2 separate regions of the Homo sapiens genome follow, and region 1 is linked to region 2. The links come from fine-mapping of genetic effects on gene expression. A gene starts in region 2. The other region holds a variant in brackets. All regions are shown on one strand. Distances are from middle to middle.

Region 1 (10,031 bases), 60 kb before region 2:
TTTTGTACAAAACTGTGTTAAATGAAACTCATACATATCCATGCATATCACTTTGCATGGTTCCATGGTGACCAAAATTTGAAACTATATATCTATATACATATTTATATTATATATTCTATATAAATACTATATATTCTATATATAGACACACTTAACCCGAATATTATTTTACCAAAACACTCCTAATTTTTACCAAATAGGAACGTGTACTATCTTTAACTTTCATGTATAACTTATTTGATTAGTATATGTAGACAACAAATTATCAAAATAATTATTAAATTAGAATTTTATGAAAAGAAAAACAAATCCCTACACAACTCAAATCTCCAAAACACTCCCCAAGATGTTATTTTCCCCAAAAAGAAATGGTGGAAAGCATTACAGCACAGTGCTTTCCAGCCACGCAGCTTTGGTAATTGACTGATACTCTCAACGACTTAACTTTTTCTTTATAGTATGAGGATCAAATGAGATAATGAATACAAAAATACCTACAGTGGTGCAAGGCCTATAGTGATTTTATTGAAAAATAATGGTTTATCAAAATAACACATGTACCCCAAATGTATGTACAACTATAATATATATCAATAAAAAATGTAAAACAAATCAGTAATGTGTAACATACAGAAATTAAAATCATGATACAGCTTCAAAAGAAAAGCAAAAAGAAAAAGAATGACTTACTCTGAATTTGCAAAGTTCCCTGAATGTGAGAAAGTTGTGAAAGTGTCCTTCACCCAAGCAATCCCCTCTTGCCTCTCTACTTTTGCTGCCCACTTGACCTCTTTGATCACAGTATACCTAAATTATTGACAGGGTGGCAGAATTCTTAACCTAGTCCTTTAATTATTCTTCTGTTTAAACTTTTTTTTTTAACTGCAGTCGTCTTTAATGGAATAAAAACGAATTCCTGCATATTAATCCTCAAAAGGTCCACTTTCCATTTCTTTAACAGTTTACTTTAGTCACTCTTATCTGAATTACCTCCATTAATTTTCTCACATAATTTTAAAAAACTATAGTGGCCAATCAAAATCTAGGTATGTGTGCCATTTACACTGTAACATATCCCAGAAACATAGTCTTTCCCTCTCCCCACAATGCCGCTATTAAGACTCTCATATCTTCTGTTTTCTCTCTCATACCTGGAAGGCAATAAAGCATCTGGGACTCATGCCTTCAAGTTGAAAAGACATCACTGAGGGAGTGACATTGACAGCAATCCAGTCTTCACATGTTTTGTTTGTAATACTTTGATTGGATATATTGTAGAAAATTTCAAATTTTGTTAACACCCCATTTTCATGCTTAGGTTTGTTCCACCTAAATTCCACCACAACTTCATTCTTGTTGCAGCATTTTCCACTTGGTAATATAAATATTCTGGGGTTCTCTGGTGCTGATGGAACTGAAAAGTAGAGGCACAGGTAGAGCAGAAAAGAATATAAGAATATAAAGAATATAAGACTTTTACCACTTATAATAAGATTGTAAACAACTTAACAATATTTCTCATTCCAGGCAGTTGCAGTATATTTATTACATTCTTAAAGATCTTCAGGAGAGAATATTCCATAGATTTCTTCAGGAACCCATCCTGATAATTTCAGCACATCTGACTGACAGGCAAGACTTCCTTATGTTCAACTCAAATCCTTCCTACTACCACTTAAGCACACCTTTCTTGTCTGTGCCTTGTGTAGATGGAAGCTGTCTGGTTCTCCCCGTAAAATGCAACATTCACTTTTATCCTGACAGAGTGATTTCAGTGAAGGTGAAAATGTCATCATCAGGATGGATGGCAGTAAGTCCCACCAGCCTTCAGCCAGTTCAGGTTGTAAAACACAGCATAAATCAGAGACCTAGGCCCTGTCACTCTGAAGTTCCTAGAAAGCAGAAAGTTTAGGGGAGGCTGATCGTACCCCAAGAGTAAGGTTTGGGAGTATTCATTTATTCTAGAGCCAAACCAAGCAATTCAGTATCTCTCAGTCCTTTAATCAAGAGAAATGTCTCTGCCTGATTTCTAAGTCATTCTCTCTGGATGGCCCTCTCCTCTCTTAGGACTCCTCCACAAGGTCTTCATTCCCTCCCTCATTCCAATCACATTGCTATTTAATGTTTAACACTCATACTATTATTCAATCTCCAGGCCTTCTTACATTAGGCTTCTCTTCTCACATGGGATACCTCTTCTTGCTCCATCTTTCAGAGTGCACTAAAGTTTCCATTTCCCAAAGGCACCTTCTCTCTTAAAAATGCCTGAGGCAGCTTGATATAGGTGAAGGTTTCATAGGCTTGTCTACTCACTCTATGCCACTGCTGCTCAGGTATAACTCTCTAGTATCTATTATCATTTGCTGTGCATGTGTTTATCTCCCTCCTGTTTTATGAACTCCATCAGAGAAAGCATCTCTTCTTATTCCTTGTTAAATCTTCCCATATCTAGTACAGAACTGGCATACAGTAAGTGGTTAATAAATATTGGTCAATTTGGATAATTTCCTGGCTATATTGTAAATTTCCTGAAGGCAAAGGCCAAATCTTGTCATCCTTTCTTATTCTCCAATATCCAGCAGAGTGCTGTTGACTCTTGCTCCCACTGGATCCCCTGATGGATGCAGTCAAGTCCATTTCCACAGGACAATTCAACCAAGCTGATATCCCAAGGAAATCTCAAGCAGAACATTCCTGGATCCAATGCTAACTGCTCCGGAACCTGCCCAGGCCCCACTATGTTCCTGTTGTGTAATTCGTAGATGGATATTGTTGAAATAATCTTAATAGTAAAAAATGCAATGGAGAATGGATATCTATATTTATTAAGCTCTTACCACCTGCCAAATCCTGTATTAGCTTTACATAAATTACTATCATTTACCAACATTTGTAAAAGTGACTGAATGGAGATTTGATGAAACTGTAGTGAAAAGTCCAGATTAAGTCCCAGCCCAGCCACTTAGTAACTATTTTATTTGGGCAACTACTAGGCTTTCATTTTCTTTCTTGCATAATCAAGATAATAAGACTTTCCTACCCACCTCAGAGCTCTGTGAGGATCAAATGAAATGATGTTTCTGACACATGATAGGTATGTAGTAAATAGTTAATAAAGGAGTGATACATAAAAATGTGTTTTGTACACTTTAAGGTGATACACACATGTAATGATATGGCTAGTATCTTTTTTAAAATATCTTTTCCCCAAAACATTAAATTTAGATATCAGTTATTCACCTACAGAAGATTCTGAGTTCCCATCTATGAGAACAGTCTGCCTTCCAAGAAAACTGTCTCTGCCCTTAAATGCCCATTTTCCTTATAAAGGATTTTGCAAATTACCTGAAATATGCATCTGCATCTTCTACATCACTACAATCAAATGAAATGGCTGTTAAGAAATCTTTGAAATATTCTTTTGGAATAAATTATGCATATTTATGTTAATGACGCTATTCTAATCTCCAAAAAGTCATTGAAAGGGTATTGAATCTAAACACATCTATAAAACTGAAAGTTATTTTTAAATATCAACTATCCATTCCAGATCATGAAAAGTGAGATTCTGCTTTTTTAAGAAAAAAGACAGATTTTAACCCCTGTACCTGTTTCAGGTGCTCGAAGTGACAGAGATGTTTTGGGGCCCTTTCCCCAGTAGGTATAAGGAGTGACAGAAAGATTAAATAAGGCATAAGGTTCCAGTCCTTCCACAGTAAATACAGGTAAAGAGTGTTGTTCACTAGCCAAGAACTAAAATATAAACAGAAAACATTATTTTCTCAGGGAGAGAATTATAAAATCTTTCATTCCTTATTATCTAAAATCTCCAAACTTTAGTTCACATGTAAAATCAAAATTTGCAATTTTGGAAGTGCTAATTTTGGCAAGTTCTGTGTTGTGCCACACAGACCAGTTAAAGTGTATCCAGCACAGCAGTTAGCACCAAGCAGTCAGAGACTGGCTGCAAACAAGTCTTCTGGGGAATAATCTTAATGACCAAATGCTATGGGAATGACAAAGAAGATGGGCTTGGCTAAGTCAAGATGATACAGGTCAGTGTGGGCAAGGCTGACACAGATGGTACAGTCTGTTTGGGAAATGAAAGTTACTAGAACCAACACCATACCTTAGAATGAGCACTAAATTCTACACTGTAGAAAACTACACCCCAGTCTACCGCAGGGGGACCATTCCACAGGATTTGAAAACTTGAAGCATTTCCTTCAATCCTAAATGAAGACTCTTGAACAGAATCTGGAATAACCTTAGGGGTAAAGGAAAAGTTCCCTACAGGATGAAACAAAAAAAAGAAATAGGAGAAAAAAATGGGGATTATTGACCAATATAGAAATCATAGAAAATCAATAGCAATTACTAATAATTAGAACTGAAACAAAATTTTTCTTTTCTTTAACATATCCTGAAAAAAATCATCTTTTTCTGACTTTTTCAGGCTGTAAATTTGGGTTAAGATTAAACTCACTGCAAGCAAACCAATTGAAATTACTGAAACCTTACTCCTCTTAAAACTTAATTCTTAAGAAAAAAAAATATCCCAACCTAAACATTTATTTAACTGAAGGTATAGTGGAGTAGGGTAAGCAGGAATGAAATACTGTACCTGGCAGGGGCTTAAGGGATGTCTGAATAATTGTGAACTGATTAAATCTGGCTGGTTCCAAAACAGAGACACTGGTTTTCTGACCTATTTCTTGAGTTGTGATAATCCTAAAGCCATTGATCCAGAACAGCCGACCACTATAGTACATCAGTGCATTCTGGGAAATTTCAGAAGTACTCCAGGCTGCAAATTCTGTGATGGTGGTATCCCCAGTGCT[G/A]CTAAAACATAACACCAATTAGTGTGTGTTTCTGGAGTGGTGGAAGGGCTGGTCCATGCAAGTAGTCATGAGAATATATGTTTGTGAGTATCTGTACGCATTTGTGTACATTAAAATAAAGAAAATACTTTCTAACGATTATTGTCTTTTTTTGTTTCATATTAAGTTGGGTTTTTATTTTACATTTTTAAAAGTAGTAGACCTAAAGTAAATTTTCTGGGGGCTTTCCTTGTTTCTTTGAGATGGAGTCTCACTCTGTTGCCCAAGCTGGAGTGCAGTGGCATGATCACAGTTCGCTGCAACCTCTGCCTTCCAGCTTCAAGATACTCTCCTGTTTCACCCTCCCAAGTAGCTGGGATTATATGCACACACCACTAAGCCTGGCTAATTTTTTGTATTTTTAGTTGAGTCAGGGTTTCACATGTTGGCCAGGCTGGTCTTGAACTTCTGACCTCAAGTGATCTGACTGCCTCGGCTTCCCAAAGTGCTGGGATCACAGGCATGAGCACTGTGCTCTCTGGGGGCTTTTCTTATTAATGTGATATTGCAATATCAAGGGTGTTTAGATAGGTTGCAGCTTTTTAAAAAATGCTTGTGATTTTGGTAATACTCTACAACAAAGGCACAACCTGGATTCTCATTACTTCATTAGTTCAGAGATTACATCTTTGGTTTATTCTATGTGCTCCTACAACTCTTGCATTAGCATAAGAAAGACATGAGGCAAGGTTCTTACAGGACCTGGAAATAAGGTAATCATCCAGAAATGAAACCCGTAAAAACCAATGCCTGAAGTATAAATTTGCCATATGTAGAGGTGAAGCAGAAGGGCTTTGGGACCAATCAATGCAATAAATTAGCCTATAGATGTGAAGTTAGCCTACGGATGTGAAGCAGAAGGGCTTTGGGACCAGCCAATGCAATAAATCATGATGGAGACAGCAAGTTAGGATTCAGGTACATGTTCCTTTAAAAAGGAAAGCCTATTGCATTGAGGGATTTGAAAAAAAGACACACCCAAAGAGCAAGAATTTCCAAGCATTTATCCAGAATTGACAGGAATGACAGCTCTTAAATGTGGTAGCCATGAGGACTCCAGTACCTAGGCACACAGAATAACTCTGTTATGAGCAGAGTTCATCACTGCTCTGACACTGGCCTGTGTGGGCACCCTTCTAGTCTATCCAACAACCCTCACTCAGATTCCTTGTTCTTAAAGCAACCACCTCACATCTAACCCAGTTCACGTGATGCCAAGAAGGCATGGCCTGCATGCCCACATGACTATTCTCATTTCTGAATGAGACTAGGCCCCACTGGGAATTAATGAATTTGCAATGTAGGGGATTCTTCAGAAACAGATAGAACTGCATGGAACCCCAGCTCAGCCAATTATTAAATGTTTGACTTCAGGCAAATAATTTAACCTCTCATTGAACCATCTATTAAATGTGGGTATAACACTAATAAATCTGCATCTGGGTGAAGCTGATCTCATTTCATCATAGTTTTCTCAAGAAATAAAAAGATTGATTTAAAAAAATCAATTCCATGACCCCACCACCCCAAAATGAACAGCCAGGCATAACAAGATAAACAGGGAAAATCAATCCCGAAGGCATGGTCTGTTGAATTTTTTCTCCCCATTGAACCACGCCTTCCTCCTACTCTTGGTTAGTCATCTGATTTACCTGCCATTTATTATCCTAGCCTGCTGGGTCCTTCACTTTATACTACTCACAACTGTATGTTATTTCAATGTGTATCAGTTTCTATAGTTTGATCAAAGTGCTCCTTTTCAGACTAGGAAATTCAAGTAAAAAACTTTAAATTGTGTTTAGAGGTTTTTTTCCCCTCAATGGAAGGAAATTTTGCAATTATTTTTGCTTGAAAAATCTGCTTGGTTGTTTCTGAAGTTGTAACAGTTGTTTAGTACTCAAAAAAAGAACTATCTCAGTTATCCTCAGCATTTTGGAGTGATAGTTTGATTTTTTTTTTAGTGATTTCTATAAATCATTTTAAAGCATTCACTTTTCTCTCTTTAGAAAAATATAAATAAAGTTTTGTTTTGAGAATTTCACAGTACCTCAAATAGGTTTACTCTTGTATAAACTAAAGGGAATGGATGTACATAGGAGAGGGAAGAGTAGTTTGAGGGGCAATTCAATTACAATTCTCAAGTTCGGAATATGATGAGTGACAGCAATCAGTTTATCTCATCTCTACTACAGACTAGAGCCGTACTGCTCAGTGCAGCAGCAACTAGCTACATGTGACTACGGAGCCCTTGAAATGTGGTTAGTATGACCGAGGAACCAAAAGTTTAATGTTATTTAGTTTTAATTAACTTGTGGTAAATTTTAAAACTAATATTTGATTCATATATTATGAATCACGTATAATATATTAAAATATTTTTGAGTATTTTAGAACAAGTATGTAAATCAACTATTTTGCCTGTAAATTTTATGAAATCTAAATACAGATCAAATATTTTCTATGAAAACTTAGTTTGCAAATTAAGCTATGCTATAAATGTAAAATACAAACAGAACGTCCAAGAATTAATGTGAAAAAAAGAATATAAAATAACTTTATAATTTTTATTCAGATTGCATGTTGAAGTGACATTTTGATATGTTATCAAAATATTAAAATATACTATTAAAGTTACGTTTACTTGTTTTTACTTTTTTTAATGAGCCAACTAGAATATTTATAATTACATATGTGACTTGCATTATATTTGTATTGGACAAAGCTGATCTAAACTAAAGGGAAGGAATTTTGATTATATGTTAGAAAATACTTTCTCCTTATAAGATGACTCTGGAATCCCAATCTCTATATATAAAACTTCTTTTTTTCCTGATAGGTTTAAAAGGCAAGACTTACTTGGAAGGCAAAAGTACCTGCCCTTTGTTATCTCACTGGGAGCTGCTATGCTCCACTGTACATACATACAAGAAAACATTACTAAACTTGAAATGAGGAAATACATTTTTTAAGAAGGAACTTCCTTCCTCTACTTTATATTGAGTCTGTGGATGCTCGAGGAGCTAGACTCTTAAAGAAACCAGCTCTCCCTGGCTAACATGGTGAAACACCGTCTCTACTAAAAAATACAAAAAATTAGCCGGGCGTGTTGGCGGGCGCCTGTAGTCCCAGCTACTCAGGAGGCTGAGGCAGGAGAATGGCATGAACCCGGGAGGCGGAGCTTGCAGTGAGCCGAGATCGCGCCACTGCACCAGCCTGGGCGACAGAGCGAGACTCCATCTCAAAAAAAAAAAGAAACCAGCTCTCTGGCATATACAGACACAGAGAATGCAGAGAATGGACTATGATCCTTCAGGACACTGTTGCTTTGAACATTGTCTATGTCTCACTTTAGACAGCTTGTTTTGGCAATCAGATTGTCAGTACCTTAAGTTCCTAAGGAAAGGAATAATCAGTTTTCTCTGATTCACAGGTAGGAAACTAGCCAGAGCTGTCTGCCATACTTGATATGAAGTAATTGATCAATCAGATTTGTTGTGTTTATGTGCTTATAGGCATTATGTGTGTGTGTGTATATATATGGATATATACATAAATATCTATCTACATGCATCCACGTGCATACACATATATATACACATCCATATATATGTATATGTACATGCATATACACATATGTATATACATATATGTACATACGGATGTGTATATGGATATGAATGTATGTGGATATATATGGATATATACATATGAATGCATATGGATGTATGTGTATAAATCTATATCTATAGATAGATAAATATACACATACATACACTCCTTTTTCAGGGTCTCCATGACTTGGAGTTTTTCTACTTACCAAAAAAAGGAATTTTTATTCTAAAAATATTGTCAGCATTGTCTTCATAAAATAGTTATTGAACTTTAGGAGACTTTTTTGGAATTTTGATGAAAGATATGAATCCTCAATTGCAGAGCACTGACACATCCTAAAGCCTTCTATGAACCCTTTGGGGACCCAAGAACCTAATACCAGAAATCTTTACCTTTAGAGTATATGATATTTTGCTTTACTTTAATCACTTCCTGACCATTCCTCTGATTAACAATGTGATATTAGGAAAATGTGTGAATATCTCTGGACCTCAGTGTCCTCATCTATGAAATAAAATGATCTCTAAATTCTCCCTCTAAATTTTGGGTTCTAATGACTTTATAACCTATATTTTAATTTTAGATGTGTAACTTCTCCCTTAAAAACTATTAGTTAAATATTTTTAAATTATTGGATATTTAAACAAGTAGAAGTAAAACATATGACACGAAGAACACTAAGAGTAGGATGGTAAAAATTAAACATATATAAAGTTTTAAATCATTTATGAAGGATATATTTGGATATTGACTTGATAAGTTGAAGATGTATCATGTAAAAAAATGCATATTTTAATTTCTAATGCAACCTAAAAAAATAAATAGACATACTTAAAATGTCATTAGAGGAGATAAAATGGAATACTAAAAATTATTTTATTCACCCACAAAAATGGCAAAGAAGTAGAAACAGAGGAACAAGGAGCTGAGACACAAATGGAAGTCACATGTCAAGACAGTAGACTTAAATCCAAACATATTGATAATTATATTAAGTGTAAATGAACCAAATGCCGTAATTAAAATGCAGAAGTTGTTAGATTGTGTAAAAAAGCAACATCCTGTATGTTGTTTACAAGAAAGGCACTTTAAATGTAAAGACTCAGATCAGTTCCCAAAATAGTGAATAGGAGGCAAGGACTAACTTGCAGCTCCCATTCAGATGGACAGAGCGGCATGTGGAGACTCACATCATGAACTTTTGCTCCAAGAACTACCACAGGAACATACCAGGAAAGCCGAGAGAATCCACAGACGCTTTGAAGGAAGAGGCTTGCTGCTGTAGGCTTTGTGAGATAGCCAAAAAACTGAGTGCCCAAAGTGTGATATGGGGAGTGTCCACCCCCGAACACACATCCTCTGTGGAAAACCTGAAGGTCCAGATCATGGGAGAAGGATTTGACCTCACATGCAGCTGAGGCAAATTTACAGCCAAGCAAAATATAGGGGTAGAGGAAGCAGCAGGACGAGCCCTGTGGGCACTTGCAGTCCCCAGGGAAACCATTCCTGACTTTGTCTTGCAGAGATCCTTGGGGA
Region 2 (10,031 bases):
ATATCACATTTTTTTATCCACTCATCAGTTGATGGACACTTATACTTCTTTTTTGAAGTGGCTGTTTATATTCTAAATTCATCTTACATGCTTTTATGTGTATCAGGGATTTTTTCTTTAAAAACATTATTTATCATGTGTAATACTTTTTTTCCACTTTTTGGCTTTGCAGTTATTGTATACTGTTGTCATAACAGTTTAAGTTTCTAAGTAGTCAAATTTATTGATAATTTCTTTTTAGGGAGTCTAAATTTTTTAATTAGGCTTCTTAAGGCATTTCTACTTCAAGATTACAGAAACAGTCACCCCAATTTCTTCTAATATTTTTATGAAGTAAACACTTGCTTTGTTTTGTTTATTTGTCTGTTTGCATTTAAGTAAACCTTTCTGTTTTTGTTTCTTAGAAACAGAGTCACCCAGGCTGGAGCACAGTGGTGTAATCACAGCTGACAGCATCCTCGACCTCCCTGCTCAATCAATCCTCCCACCTCAGCCTCCTAAGTAGCTGGGACTACAGGTGCATGCCACCACGCCTAGCTAATTTTTGTATTTGTTGTAGAGACAGGAGTCTCACCATGTTGCCCAGGCTGGTCTCAAACTCCTGGGCTGAAGGGAACTGTCCGCCTCAGCCTCCCATAGTGCTGGAATTACAGGCATGAGCCATCGCACTTAACCAAAAGTCATACCTTTTTACAAAATATATCCTGAAATTTATTTGAATCTGGCAGTTATGTAGGAATTTTTTATGCTACATGGATAGCAACTCATTGGTTTGAATTGTCATCTTTATCATATTTCACATTCTTTATGTACATGGTTTTATTTCTTGATTGTATTCTGTTTTACTCACAGGTTTATTCCTGTAGCAATAAAAACTATGCTAATTTGTAAATATTTTATAAAATTTCTGAATTATGATCTTATTATATTATTTTGTTTTAATGTTATATATTGATATACAAGACAATTTTTCATGTCTGTACATTAATTTTTTAAAAATCTTCCAAATCCTATTATTTCTAATAGTCTTTCAGTTGATTTTCAGTTTATTTCTTTGGAACTTAAGATACAAATCAAAAATAAATGTATTGTCATCACCCTCTAATATTATAAAAGCACATCATGTTTGTAACAGCCTTTAACTGTCTAGTGATAGAAACCTTGATATCTCAGTATTTGATAACTTACTTTAGGGCATTGATTACATAATTCACTTCTTTTGTATTCCGAATTGCATCCACCACAGAGCTGAATATACATAGATACCTAGGAAAATTTATTGAATGGAATCCATTCAATAAATTGATATTGAATGAAATTTATTGAATGGAATTGATACTCCTGAGCCCTTCTCAATATTAGTTCCTCAGTTGTTGTGATTTGTTAATTCAAAAAAAAAAGGGGGTTTGTGATGTAATTCAGGAATGGAAAACCAAACATCGTATGTTCTCACTGATAAGTGGGAGCAAAACTATGAGAATGCAAAGGCATAAAAATGATACAATGGGCTTTGGGGACTTAGGGGAAAGAGTGGGAGCAGGGTGAGGGATAAAAGACTACAAATATGGTGTAGTGTATACATGGCTGATGGGTGCACCAAAATCTCACAGATCACCACTAAAGAATTTACTCATGTAACCAAATAGCACCTGTTCCCCCAATAACTTATGGAAACATTAAAAAAGGGTTTTGTTGCTAAAGATGGGAAAATTATGATTAAACAAAGCTTTTAACATGTTATTGTGCCCTGTGAATCTACAAAAAGAGGGCATAGCAAAATACACTTCCACAAATGATTCAACCGTGAATTCTTTTTTCTTTATCATAAAGGATCTCACAATACTAGAGTTCTGAAGAGCATTAATTGTTTGTTGTTTTCTGCAGCACATGGCTTCTAGAATTCAAAAAAACTTTTCAGTTAATACTTTCAACTAGTACATGCAGATCTCTGTTAACGTAAGATAAAAGTAATGTAAAATACCAATGCTCAAGCATAGAACTCTGCTTCGTGCAATTTGGCCCACAATTCTAACATTTTATTTTTGGACAAGACATTCTTGTGGTGACTTTTTTTTTTTAAGAAAACATTTCTCAATATCAAGAATCACCCAATAAAATTATAGATGACCTTCAGAGTAAATGTCCATGTTTTTAAAAATGATGCAGAAAATATAATAAACTTGAGCACTTTGTATATCCTCTCCTGTGAACCATGGTTACATTCAATTGTACATTCACTTCACTTTTGTCCCTCCAGGCCCTATGTGGGAACATGTAGTACTTTCACTGGTCAAATTGGCAGACCGTGTCTCTCTTGCTGTTGCCACACATCAGCTGTGCCATTCTCTGTAGGTGGTGAACGGAAGGCAACTCAACAAAGGAACAAACTGTCTATTCCTACTGCCAAACCCTGGAAGCAAGGAGCCCACACAAAAAGATAAGAATAAATAAAACGACAGTAAAATAAAATGGAGACTGCAATATTGGAAACAACTAAAATCAGTTTCAGTAGCAGGGAAATTAACAAATAAATTATGGTGGTACATTCATATAATGGAATACTCTAAAGATAATAAAGATTCTGTTTCTAAAAAAATCTCAGGGTCTAGGGGAAAACTCACAATACAATGTAATGAAAAAGCTGGTTGCATAGCTGGGTGTAAATTATAGATATATATGTATACATATATATATATGAGGAAAAATACTAAAAGAAAATTCAATCAAAAGATTACTAGGGCTAGAATTAGAAGTTTTTTATTCTTCTGTAGTTCTCTATGTTATAAATATTTTATTTAAAATGTATACTCTTATTATAATTAGAAAAAAGTTAAAATCTTTTTTAGAACATTTAGTTTTCCATTCAGTAGTTGAAACATTTAGTAGTTCCATTCTTCCATTTTTAAGTTTGGGTTACAAATATAAAAAACTAAAGCATGCAATTCTATATTAAAGGCAATGAAGTCTTCGGCAAAGATTTATATAAAATACTAAACTTTTAAAAAAATGCTACTAACCATGGTAAACCTAAGTAGTGTTTTAAACTACAGTTTAAATCAAAAGTGTATAAGTGCAAGTTTCTTTTTAATCTGCCACATAATTCTATCTCCAATACTTTAGAATAATATAATGAATACTATATTTAGTACTTGCATTATGTTTAAAAGTATGGCTATAGATAGGGTCATATGCAAACTATCATGATATTTTATTTGTCTTTAGACAGGAAGAGTGCATTTTCTCTGTCTATAGAGTACTTGGTTTTTAAAGTTAATTCAGTGACTGTTTTAAGCACAACTAAATTACAACTGAAAAGAGATGGTACAATAGTTAGAGAAGGGATGACACCCAGAAATGAGAATGAAAGCATGAATTTCCATATAAAAAACTCACTAACTAAAATAATAAATGCACAAACAGAAATAAAGAAATGTACAAATAATTATTGCTTTAAAATATTATTTTACATGGCAACTGTATCTGCTTCCTTTTTCATCCAGCTCCCTACACAGCTGGAATTAGCAGGCATTATCCTGTGGCCAAACCGATTTCAGGTTTCAAGACAACTACTAATGACTTTGTAATAAATAAGTTTAAATAGAAAGTTTTTAAGTGTGCAAAATTGGCAAAATTGATTCCATTTAAACCTCCTTTACCCAGTCCTCTAGCCCAAAAAATATATGACCACATACCCTAAAGAAATAAAATAGCCTGCTTTATCTTCTGCAATTATAAGGGCTCCTAACTTATTTAAGAAAAAATAATCTATCTTGCCTTGTTGCCACCACTTCTCATAAGAAAACTCCTCATAAAGAGAAAACAATTCTATCAGTTATAACAAGCTGAATGCTACATGTTCTAGTTCCTGCAAAGACAAATATTAGATTGTGAGACTTACCAGATTAGTTACACACGACTTTAGGCAGCTATTTAAAACTGTACACTGCACCACAGAAATCCATAGGCAGCCAAGAGTTGCAAAATTGACAAGCTTCGGAATAAGACAGTAAATGTTCTTCATCACTTCACCAATGGCAGATTTTTAGATGGCCGGTCTAATTTTCTCCATTTTGCTATATGAATTATTTGGGCTTCATCACTTCAATTGGAGGAGTAGCTGATGGATTTTGCTTTGTTTGTTTTGCTATATTAGGATATACTTGCCTTTTGAAATAATACTTAGCCTTTTTCATTTAGACCTTTGAATGCTTGAAAGCTTGTAACAGTTCCATAAGAGCTATTTCATAACAGCTTCCTTTTACTCCCATAAAGTCACCCAGTGACTAAAGGTTAGTTCTTAGAAGTGCACTTCACATGGAAATTAAAGAAAACGAATTGTATTTCAGCAAGGGTGTGACACATGCAGTCTGAAACTGGAACATTTCAGTGGGTCGTCCACCACCTTACTTCTCTGAGCTCTTTTCAGCTCTGCAGGGAATTGGGTTTTGACCACGTATGCTTTAGCAAACAGTAGCACTATTATAATAAAGAATTATTGGAAAAATAGAGGCACCCAAATCAAGCAATGCAACTGAGAGAGAAAACAGAACTCAGAAGCCAAATACATATTTTTAAATTTAAGAGCAAACAAAGCTGAAATTAATAGACAAATACCCTGGGAGAGAGTTAAAAACAAGGAAGTTGGTTAGAGTACTCTCAGAACTTTACTACATATTAACTAAAATACTGACTTATCAGGTCTATCGAGACAGCTGAAACTAGTTACCAGAAACCTAAGATATGTTCAAGTGTCTGCTTTGAGAAGGAAACATTGTACAAGCTTCCTTCCTGCCTGCCTTCCTTCCTCTCTCTCTCTCTCTCTCTTTCTTTGAGACTGAATTTCTGTCTGTCGCCCAGGCTACAGTGCAGTGGCATGATCCCAGCTCACTGCAACCTCCGCCTCCCAGGTTCAAGCGATTCTCCTGCCTCAGCCTCCCGAGTAGCTGAGACTACAGACGCCCGCCACCATGCCCAGCTAATTTTTGTATTTTTAGTAGAGATGGGGTTTCACCATGTTGCCCAGAGTGGTCTCGATCTCTTGACCTCGTGATCCGCCCACCTCGGCCTCCAAAAGTGCTAGGATTACAGGCGTGAGCCACCGCGGTACAACAGGCCAACCTCCTTGTTTTCTTAAATAAATTATACTAAATGTAACTTAACCTTTTCTTAATGATATAAGGTTCTCCCTATGAGTAACACATGCATGAGGTTTTGTTTTGAGCTGAACGTCTTTTGATTGGATTTTTGTTTGTTTGTTTTTTAATTTTTGTGGGTACATAGTAGGTGTATGTATTTATGGGGTACAGGAGATGTTTTGAAACAGACATGCCATGTGAAATGAGCACATCATGAAGAATGGGGTGTCCATCCCCTCAAGCATTTATCCACTGAGTTGCAAACAATCCAAGTATGTTCTAAGTCATTTTAATATGTACAGTTATTATTGACTGTAGTCACCCTGTTGTGCTATCAAATAGTAGGTCTTATTTATTCTTTCTACATTTTTTGTACCCATTAACTGTCCCCATCTCCCATCCCCCACCCCACCCACCACCACCCTTCCCAGCCTCTGGCAACCATCCTTATACTCTCTTTGTCCATGAATTCAATTGTTTTGATTTCTAGATCCCATAAATAAGTGAAAACATGCAATGCTTGCCTTTCTGTGCCTAGCTCAATTCACTTAACGTAATAATCTCCAGTTCCATCCATGTTGTTGGACGTGACTGAATATGGCTGAATAGTTCTCCATTGTGTATATGTACCACATTTTCTTTACCCATTCATCTGTTGATGCATACTTAGGTTGCTTCCAAATCTTAGCTATTGTAAACAGTGCTGCAATAAACATTCACATGCAGATATTTCTTTGATATACTGATTTTCTTTCTTTTAGGCATATACCCAGCAGTAGAATTCTAGATCATATGGTAGCTCAATTTTTAGTTTTTTGAGGAACTTCCAAACTGTTCTCCATAGTGGTTGTATTGATTTACATTCTCATCAAAAATATACAAGGGTTTCCTTTTCTCCACATTGCCACCAGCATTTGTTATAGCCTGTCTTTTGGACATAAGCCATTTTAACTGGGTAAGATGATATCCCATTGTAGTTTTGATTTGCATTTTTCTGATGATTAATGATGTTAAACACCTTTTCATATGCCTGTTTGTCATTCGTATGTCTTTTGAGAAATGTCTATTCAAATCTTTTGCCCATCCTTTGATTGGATTATTTGATTTTTTTTCTATAGAGTTGTTTGAGCTTTTTATTTATTCTGGTTATTAATCCCTTGTCTGATGGGTAGTTTGCAAATATTTTCTCCCATTCTGTGGGTTTTCTCTTAACTTTGTTAATTGTATCCTTTGCTGTAAAGAAGATTTTTAACTTGATGTGATCTCGTTTGTCCATTTTTGCTTTGGTTGCCTGTGCTTGTTGGGTATTGCTCAAGAAATTTTTACCCCAACCAATGTCCTGGAGATTTCCCCAATGTTTTTTGTAGTAGTTTCATGGTTTGAGGTCTTAGATTTAAGTCTTTAGTCCATTTTGATTTGAATTTTGTATATGGAGAGAGATAGGGGTCTAGTTTTATTCCTTTATATATGTATATCCAGTTTTCCCCACACCATTTATTGAAGAGACTGTCTTTTCCCCAGTGTATGTTCTTGGCATCTTTGTCAAAAATGAGTTTACTGTAGGTGTGTGGATTTCTTTCTGGATTCCCTAGTCTGTTTCACTGATCTGTGTGTCTATTTTTATGCCAGTAGCATGCTGTTTTGGTTACTATAGCTCTGTAGTATAATTTGAAGTCAGGTAATGTAATTCCTCCAGTTTTGTTCTTTTGCTTAGGATAGCTTTGGCTATTCTTGGTCTCTTGTGGTTCAATATAAATCTTAGGATTGTTTTTTTCTATTTCTGTGAAGAATGTCATTGGTATTTTTATAGGGATTGCATTGAATCTGTAGATTGCTTTGGGGAGTATGGACATTTTAACAATATTGACTTTTCCAATTAATGAACATGGAATGTTTTTCCATTTTTTGTGTGTCCTAATCAATGTCTTTAATCAGTGTTTTATAGTTTTCATTACAGAGATCTTTCACTTCTTTGGTTAATTCCTAGATACTTAATTTTATTTGTAGCTATTGTAAATGGAATTACTTTCTTGATTTCTTTTTCAGATTGTTCACTCTTGACATACAGAAATGCTACTACTGAATTACTAAATTTGTTTATCAGTTCTGCTAGTTTTCCTGTGGAGTCTCCAGGTTTCTCAGCATGTGAGATATGTCATCTGCAAACAAGGATGATTTGACTTCCTCCTTTACAATTTGGATGCCCTTAATATCTTTCTCTTGTCTGATTGCTCTAGCTGGGATGTCCAGTACTGTGTTGAATAACAGTGGTGAAGTGGGCATCTTTGTCATGTTCCAGACCTTAGAGGAAAGGCTTTCAGTTTTTCCCCATTCAGTATAATACTAGCTGTGGGTAGGTTATATATGGCTTTTATTATGTTCAGGTATGTTCCTTCTATCCCCAGTTTTTTTTTTTAGGGTTTTTATCATAAAAGGATGTTGAATTTTACCAAATGCTTTTTCAGCATCAATTAAAATGATCATATGCTTTTGATCCTTCATTCTTTTGATATGATGTAGCACACTGATTGATTTGTATATGTTGAATCATCCTTCCATCCCAGGGATAAATCCCACTTGGTCATGATGAATGATCTTTCTAATGTATTGTTGAATTCAATTTGCTAGTATTTAGTTGTGGACTTTTGCATCAATATGTATCAAAGATTGGCCTGTAGTTTTCTTTTTTGGTGTGTCTTTATCTGGTTTCAGTATCAGGGAAGTACTGGCCTCATAGAATGAGTTTGGAAGTATTCCCTCCTTCTCTGTTTTTCAGAATAAGTTGAGTAGGATTCGTATTAGTTTTTCTTTAAATATTTGCTAGAATTCAGCAGTGAAGCTATTAGGTCTCAGGCTTTTCTTTACTGGGAGACTTTTATTACAGCTTCAATCTCATTACTTGTTATTGGTCTGCTCAGGTTTTGGATTTCTTCCTGGTTCAATTTTGGCAGGTTATATGTATCTAGGAACTTGTCCATTGCTTCTATATGTTTCCATTTATTAGCATATAGTTGCTCAGAGTAGCCACTAATGATCCTTTGAATACTGCAGATATCAGTTGTAATGTCTCCTTTTTCATTTCTGATTTTATTTATTTTGATCTTCTTTCTTTTTTTCTTAAACTGGCTAAAGGTTTGTCCATTTTGTTTAACTTTTCAAAAAAATAAAACTTTGTTTCTTTTTTTTTGTTTTTTCCATTTTGTCCTGCTCTGATCTTTATTATTTCTTTTCTTCTACTAATTCTGGGTTTGGTTTGCTCTTGCTTTTCTAGTTCTTTAAAATGCATCATTAGATTGTCATTTGAAGTTTTTCCTTTTTTTTTGATGTAGATACTTAGAGCTATAAAATTCTATCTTACTATTGCTTTTGCTGTATCCCATAGATTTTGGTATATTGTGTTTTCATTATCATTTGTTTCAAGAAATTTTTCAATTTCCTTCTTAATTTCTTCATTGGCTCACTGATCGTTCAGGAGCATATTGTTTAAATTCTATGTATTTGAATAGTTTCCAAAATTTCTCTTGTTATTAATTTCTAGTTTTATTTTTGTCAGAGAAGATGCTTGATATTATCTCAGTTTTTTTAATGTTTTAAGGTTCGTTTTGTGACCTAACATCTGGCCTATCCTTAAGAACGATTCATGTGCTGAGGAAAATAATGTGTATTCTGGCTGGGTGTGGTGGCTCATGCCTGTAATCCCAGCACTTTGGGAGCCTGAGGTGGGTGGATCACGAGGTCAGGAGATCGAGACCATCCCGGCTAACATGGTGAAACCCCGTCTCTACTAAAAATACAAAAACTTAGCTGGACATGGTGGTGGGTGACTGTAGTCCCAGCTACTCGGGAGGCTGAGGCAGGAGAATGGTGTGAACCCGGGAGGCGGAGCTTGCAGTGAGCTGAGACTCTGTCTCAAAAAAAAAAAAAAAAAAAAAAAAAAGTGTATTCTGCAGCCCTTGGATGAAATGTTCTGTAAATATCTATTAGATCCATTTGATCTATATTGCAGATTAAGTCTGATGTTTCTTTGTTGATTTTCTGTCTGAATGATCTGTCCAATGCTGAAAGTGAGGTGTGGAAGTCTCCAGCTATTATTGTGTTAGAGTCTCTCTCTCTCCTTAGCTCTAATAATATTTCTTTTATATATGTGGGTGCTCCAGTGTTGGGTGAATATATATTTAAAATTGTTGTATCCTCTTGCTGAGCCAACCCCCCTTATCATTACATAGTGACCTACTTCTCTTCTTATTGCTTTTGTCTTGAATTCTATTTTGTCTGATGTAAGTATAGCTACTCCTGCTCTTGGCATGGAATATTTTTTTACAATCCTTTATTTTCCATCTCTGTGTATCTTTATAGGTGAAGTGTGTTTCTTGTAGGCAGAAGATCAACTGTTTTTTTTTTCATCCATTCAGCCAGTCTATGTCTTTTGATTGGAGAGTTTAGCCCATTGACATTTAAGGTTATTATGGACAAGTAAGGACTTACACCTGTCATTTTGTTCTTTTCATATTGTTTTTTGGTCTTCTTTCTTTCATTCTTGTCTTCCTCTAGTGAAGATTATTTTCTCTGGTGATATGATTTAGTTTCTTGCTTTTTTTTTTGTGCATTCATTGTATGTTTTTTAATGTGAAGTTACCATGACACGTGCAAATATGATTTTAAAACTCATTATTCAGGCATATAAACCAGCCAGAGTGGCAGTAGCAGAGGCAAGACCACCATAGCACCAGGAGTAGCAACTCAGAGAAAGCACAGAGCAACACTGACTGCAGTGACCTGGTGACAGCATGAGAGGTACTAGGTTTTAAAAAATTTGTATCATGCTTGAGTATAAATTAGTCATTCTTGGCTCAGGAGCTGTTGGAAATTCTGCTTTGACTGTACAATTTGTACAAA

Evidence for each region. PIP is the estimated chance that this variant, and not a neighbour inherited with it, causes the effect. A credible set is the group of variants that fine-mapping cannot tell apart.
Region 1: its variant is the best candidate, but not a certain one, in a credible set for the expression of ROS1 in lung (TOPMed, PIP 0.71).

What each region holds. Positions count from the first base shown.
Region 1 is chr6:117,361,449-117,371,479 of GRCh38, forward strand. It overlaps ROS1 (ROS proto-oncogene 1, receptor tyrosine kinase), which reads right to left. Exons shown (of 44, transcript NM_001378902.1): 19 at 4,628-4,842; 20 at 4,133-4,293; 21 at 3,612-3,756; 22 at 1,155-1,417. Among named protein-coding and RNA genes, the nearest start is that of ROS1, 59 kb to the right of the region's middle. The variant G/A (reference allele first, on the strand shown) is at 4,845.
Region 2 is chr6:117,421,636-117,431,666 of GRCh38, forward strand. It overlaps ROS1 (ROS proto-oncogene 1, receptor tyrosine kinase), which reads right to left and starts at 4,307. Exons shown (of 44, transcript NM_001378902.1): 1 at 3,899-4,307. The coding sequence starts at 4,021. It also overlaps the pseudogene RAP1BP3.